Linked DNA regions of Homo sapiens: region 1 is linked to region 2. Evidence: fine-mapped expression QTL. A gene starts in region 2. The other region holds a variant in brackets. All regions are shown on one strand. Distances are between the middles of the regions.

Region 1 (2,910 bases), 140 kb after region 2:
AAGGCTATTTCCTCTTGTACGCAGTAAATGAAGACCTGGGTTCAAATCCCAGATCTGTCATTTGTTAGGTTTGTGACATAAGACTTCACTTCACCTCCCTGAGTCCCCCAGCTCCTCATTTTTTTTTTAATGGAGATAAAATGAGGTCATGCATATAGCATTTAGTATGTTGCCTGGCATATGGTGGATTCTCTATAAAATGGTACCTAAAGGAGGATAGCAAACTTGTTTTTCCTTTTTTCCTTTCATTTCTCTTCTCTTTAGTGTAGCAGAGGACCCTGTGGTATCTCAGTCCCTGCACTGTTTCACCAGGCTTGTAACTTGATTCTAGCAGTCAGCATTTTGGCTCTTACGCAGGGATAACACTTGCTCACCTGGCTCAGCTTTCTGGCCTCAGCCCATTCAGGCCTCCCTGCACACAGCCCAGGATGTTCTAACAGTCGATTTAGAAAAGATGCGGGAAGCAAAGCATTTCTTAGATGGCTTGAGACATCTTCATCCCTGGCCTTCTCTTGCAGAAGAGAAGAGGCAAGGATATATTTGGGCTGCTCCTTCCCTTAGGGGTGGGCCTTAAGGAGAGGTTGGAGGCTGGGACTGAGTGTGCTCTGTGAACAAATACATCTGTGGGACCTTGAATGAAGCTCTTCTGCAGGAGTGCTGAGGACAGCAAAGCTCATATGAGTGTTCTTCTAATCACTTTTTAAGAGGATTGAGATTCCTGCCTGTGCCCCATACAGACATGGGTAAGTGATCACATTGGCCCAGGTGAGGAGTGTCTGTGGGACATGGGTCTGGCCTCTCCCACCAGGCTGAAGGCATCTCTAGAGCAAGACCGGCGTCACTGAGTGTGATGCTGGGTGAGCATCCTCAGAGCACGAACGAGGGTCAAAGAAAGCTCTGGGTGGTTCTATGGTTCTATAAAGGGTTCTATAAAGACAAAGCTCTTGGAAGAGAGAAGAGGATGAGGTTGCCCCTAGTCCTAGAAGGGCAGGTAGAACTTGGATAGGTGGTTTGGAATAGATGAGAGCTAATCCAGATAAGGAGTATGCTGCTCACCCCAGCACCTTCACAGTGTCTCACTTAGGCCTCCCAATCCTGTGATGTTCTGACTATGCCCATTATACAGATTACCACTGAGGTGCCTTGCTAAGGACCTCACAGTTAATAGATGACAGAGCTGGGGTTCTCCTGTAGTTGCACATGTCCTCCAAAGTTCGTGTGTTAGAGACTTAATCCCCAATGCAACTATTGGGAGGTGGGTCCTAACAGGAAGTGTCTGAGTCATGAGGGCCCTTCCTTCCTGAATGGATTAATGCCAGTGATAAAAAGCCACAATATTAGGCTGCAAGTTTGATCTCTTGTTCTCTCATGCTCTCTTGCCCTTCCACCTTTTGCCAGGGAGGATGTAGCACAAAGGTCCTCACCAGATGCCAGCCCCTCAATCTTGGACTTTCCAGCCTCCAGAACTGTAAGAAATAAATCTCTTCTTTATAAATTACCCAGTCTCTGATATTCCATTA[T/C]AGCAACAGAAAATGAACTAAGCCAGATTCCAATTCAGGCCTCTACTCCAGAGCCACCACTTCATCCCCTTTTTCCACTGCATCATGCTGCCTCCTGGAGGCCACAGTGGGCAAGCCTAGCAAAAGTGGAGAGCCGGGAAAGAGAGTCACGCAAAGGGCAAATGAGGACCCGATTGACAGAAGAAGTGACGAGTAGATCGTTGGTAACAAATGAGTAGTTTTAAAAGAATGAAAGCTATAACAGAGACCAGTTTTCAGACGGCAAAAATATGCATCAGGCAGTGGATTGAGAGAAAGCAAGCCCACATGCTGGGAGTCAGTGCTGTGGCTGCAGCCACATGGCCGGCACCTCTGCAACTCTTCCATAGCCACCTGGTCTTATGCCACGCACGGGAGCTTCCTGTGGACTCCTCTGTACAGGAATCACTGCTCCAGCTTTGATTACGCCCATCCTCTACCCCACCCCATGAGACGTGGCCTAAAATACCAACTGCTCCTGCCTCCCAGAGCGGTCCTTCCCACCCTTCCATGCCCTGCCAGTCTTCATGACCCCTGGCCTGGCCTGTGTCTACTGAATGACTTATCATTGCTGCGGGATTGTGTCTCTGCAGTCTGCTCCTCCCTGCCTCCACCAACACCCCTTCTCTCAGGAGAGTCCTAGAAGATGACCTTCTGTCTTAGTCATCTCTGTGCTGTCAGGGCATATCAAATATGGCCTGCTACACAGGGTAGTCTATAAATTTTGTTATCTAAATTAATAAAAAGTTTCTACCATACCTAATAGGCAAGCTGTGAAAAAGTGCAATTCTCACATTGGGTCGGACTACCAGGAAATCACATCTCTGGGCTTCTTCATCTTAAAACTGACACATCAGTGGGAGTGCAGACATGGACACTTGCTCTTTTATCCCTTAAGTGTTTCCCCAGCAGAGCTGTGCACAACTGGGTCAGATAGATTCAAGGATGTCTGAATCTTTGCAGACTGTTTGTGTCTGGCACTGGGGGACTGCAAGGAAGCAAGGCCACTATCCCTTGTGTCCCATTCATCTTGTCTGATATGGCTGCAACTGTTACTTCCATTCTTCTACAATTAGAAAACCTCTGGAGTTTGGGTATTAGCAACTACCAAATATGTAGTTTATTATTTGCTGAGCACTAACCCCGCGCAGCACCCCGAGTGGGAATTACAGCAACAATACACATGACTGTGCTCTGGGATAATCGAGCATTTTCATTTTGTGTTGCATTCCTCAAACATTCTGGCAAAGGGGCCTGTGCTGACCTCCCCACATTGGGACAGATTTCCTTGCTGGGTAAGTCTATGGGAAAATTCCTCTTCCCTGGGATGAGAATGTGACCCTGTGACTGGGCGTCCATTACAGCCAGGGGG
Region 2 (2,910 bases):
AACCTCTGACACCCCTGCATTTAAAAACCCTTACCTATAAACAATTAGGGAGTTCAAGACTTAAGCACTAACTGACCAGTTCTCCTTGCTTGGGACCCTACAATAAATGCCTCACTTTCTTTCACTATAATCCTGATGTCAGTGTTTGGTCTTGCTGCACAGGCAATTGGACTCCAGTTTGGTTTGATAACAGCTCTTGAGAGATTGGAAAAGAGAGAGTCCCTGAGAGAGTGGGTTGTTTTCCACCTCCTGTTTGGTCTGTTTTCACATGTATCAGCTTCCCCTTTGACCTTCTACCATGTTGTGACACTGCACAAAAAACTCTAACCAGAACTGAGCAGATGCTCACACTATGCCCCTTGAGCTTTCCAATGTGCAGAACCATGAGCTAAGTAAACCTCTTTTTTAAATCCAAGCATACTTTGAAGATATTGGGGGTTCAGTTCCATACTACCACAATAAAGCAAACATCACAATAAGGCAGTTCACAGAATTTTTTTGGTTTCCCAGTGCATATAAAATTTATATTTACACTGTACTGTAGATTATTGTGTACAACAGTATTATGTCTAAAAAAAGTACATACTAAGAAAAGAAAAATAGCCCAGAGCTGTCTGAGCTATGTGAGGTATGCAAAATTTATTAGACCCGGACAGAAGTGAATACTGGCTTCCGCCACGCCTTCCCATGCCTTAGGGCAATTGTTAAAGGCATTTTGTTCTTTATTAGCTGCCTCACCCATTATCTTTATGTTCCTGGAATTTGTGATACAAGGAAGAAAGCATAGCCAGTCAATAGCTTAAGTTTTTTAAATATAAATTCTTGGTAAACAAGTTAAGCTCTGCCTCCTCTCCTTTCCTTAAAAACCGGCTCACGCCTGTAATCCCAGCACTTTGGGAGGCCGAGGCGGGTGGATCATGAGGTCAGGAGATCGAGACCATCCTGGCTAACAAGGTGAAACCCCGTCTCTACTAAAAATACAAAAAATTAGCCGGGCGCGGTGGCGGGCGCCTGTAGTCCCAGCTACTCGGGAGGCTGAGGCAGGAGAATGGCGTGAACCCGGGAAGCGGAGCTTTCAGTGAGCCGAGATTGCGCCACTGCGGTCCGCAGTCCGGCCTGGGCGACAGAGCAAGACTCCGTCTCAAAAAAAAAAAAAAAAAAAAAAAAAAACCTACTCCGACTGCTGCTAATTGGAGTGTATATTCAAGGCAACTTGAATCTAAGCTCCTGAGTGGCCATTCTCAAGCACTGAGCCCAAATAAACTCTATACTTAATATTATTCTCTGAATTTTCTTAAAGTTGGCAACACCTTAATTAAAAAAATACTTTATTGATCATGCTTATGAACATGATCAAATGAGAATCAACTTTCCTGTGTATGTGGGGAAGATATGCAACTAGTAACGCAGAAAGAGGGAAATGGGAAGAGGGAGAAAAGAGGGGCAGACATGGAACAAATGAGAGAGAAGGAAAGGGAAGCCAGAAGCCAGAAGCACATCAAGGATGACAGAAAATAAAAGGCGGATAAAATTCAAATGAAAAAGAAAGGAAAACCCCGACACCCTCCAAGAGGTCTCTCTGATCTGGACCACCGGCTCCAAGCCAGTAAGAAATCTCCCAGCCAGCTGTGCGCCGCGCGCCAGGCTGACATCGGCTTCCCGGATCAGCTCCGGCGCGGTACTGTGACGTCACCTGAGGGGGGCACTTCCGGTCTCGTGCCGCCTTCCCAGGACCCTCAGGGAGAGCGGGCAGCCTTCCAGGTGGACAGGTGAGGTACAGCTTGCCGAGCTCAGGGTGACTGCCCAAAGGAAGGACGGGTGGGCAGGCACGCGGGATCTGGCGCCCCTTCTTCTCTATGGTTCCTCGCAGAGCCCCTGTTGCCCTGGGCCAGATGGCCCGTAGCAGCAAAAATAATACTGTTCCGACAGCTCGCGAGTTCGGAGCCACTTGGCCTGGGAGTCCCTTGAGTTGCAGGCCGGGCAGTCGCTCACCCGAGCGCGGTAATGCAGCATTTGAACCCCTAAGTGTAGCCCACCTGTAGGGAGTCTTATGGTGCCCCCGCGGAGGAGTAGAGGCCAAAAAGTTGGGCAGCTGGCCGGGAAGAACTCGCTAGGAGGGGTCAAACTCTGGGCCGGGAGTGTTCTTTGCCCCCGGCGTTTAGTGCTCACGCCGCCTTTTATTCACGCTGAAGACCTTAACCGTAAACCCTCATCCTTGGGTCTTAGTTTGGTTTTGTTCCCCACGCAAGACAGAATGCAGATTGGAACACTTTATTCCTTGGTTAATTCGTATCTTCCCTCGCAAGTAGTTACCGGACACCTGCTTTGTGTCCTGTGTACCAAACACAAGAGTTGATAGTCCTGGCCGGGCGCCGTGGCTCACGCCTGTAATCCCAGCACTTTGGGACCCCGAGGCGGGCGGATCAGGAGGTCAGGAGATCGAGACCATCCTGGCTAACACGGTGAAACCCCATCTTTACTAAAAATACAAAAATAAATACATAAATAAATAAATTAGCCGGGCGTGGTGGCGGGCGCCTGTAGTCCCAGCTACTCGGGAGACTGAAGCAGGAGAATGGCGTGAACCCGGGAGGTGGAGCTTGCAGTGAGCCGAGATGGCGCCACTGCACTCTAGCCTGGGCGACAAAGTGAGACTCAGTCTCAAAAAAAAAAAAAGAGTTGATAGTCCTTGAGTTGAAAGAACAAATCTGTATGGAGAAAGAGATACAACCAAAAGAAACCCAGAAGATTTAGAAGCATCTCCAGAATGTTTATTCTCAAAAGCTGTTTTTTAATTAAACTTCTTTCTGAAACTATACGTAGGAGTGTCTCTTGTGTGTTTCCCCATTTTTCCACCTGAAGGTTAAAGACTTAGAAACCTGCTAAGGCCCCTCTTTCCAGCATGTAGCA

What was found. PIP is the estimated chance that this variant, and not a neighbour inherited with it, causes the effect.
Region 1: its variant is fine-mapped to the expression of LDAH in whole blood (TOPMed, PIP above 0.99). The same link has a PIP of 0.9 or more in monocytes.

What each region holds. Positions count from the first base shown.
Region 1 is chr2:20,681,077-20,683,986 of GRCh38, reverse strand. It overlaps a transcript of LDAH not described here. Among named protein-coding and RNA genes, the nearest start is that of GDF7, 15 kb to the right of the region's middle. The variant T/C (reference allele first, on the strand shown) is at 1,521.
Region 2 is chr2:20,821,896-20,824,805 of GRCh38, reverse strand. It overlaps LDAH (lipid droplet associated hydrolase), which reads left to right and starts at 1,705. Exons shown (of 7, transcript NM_021925.4): 1 at 1,705-1,769. RefSeq lists enhancers at 1,522-1,911, 2,132-2,201, 2,004-2,829.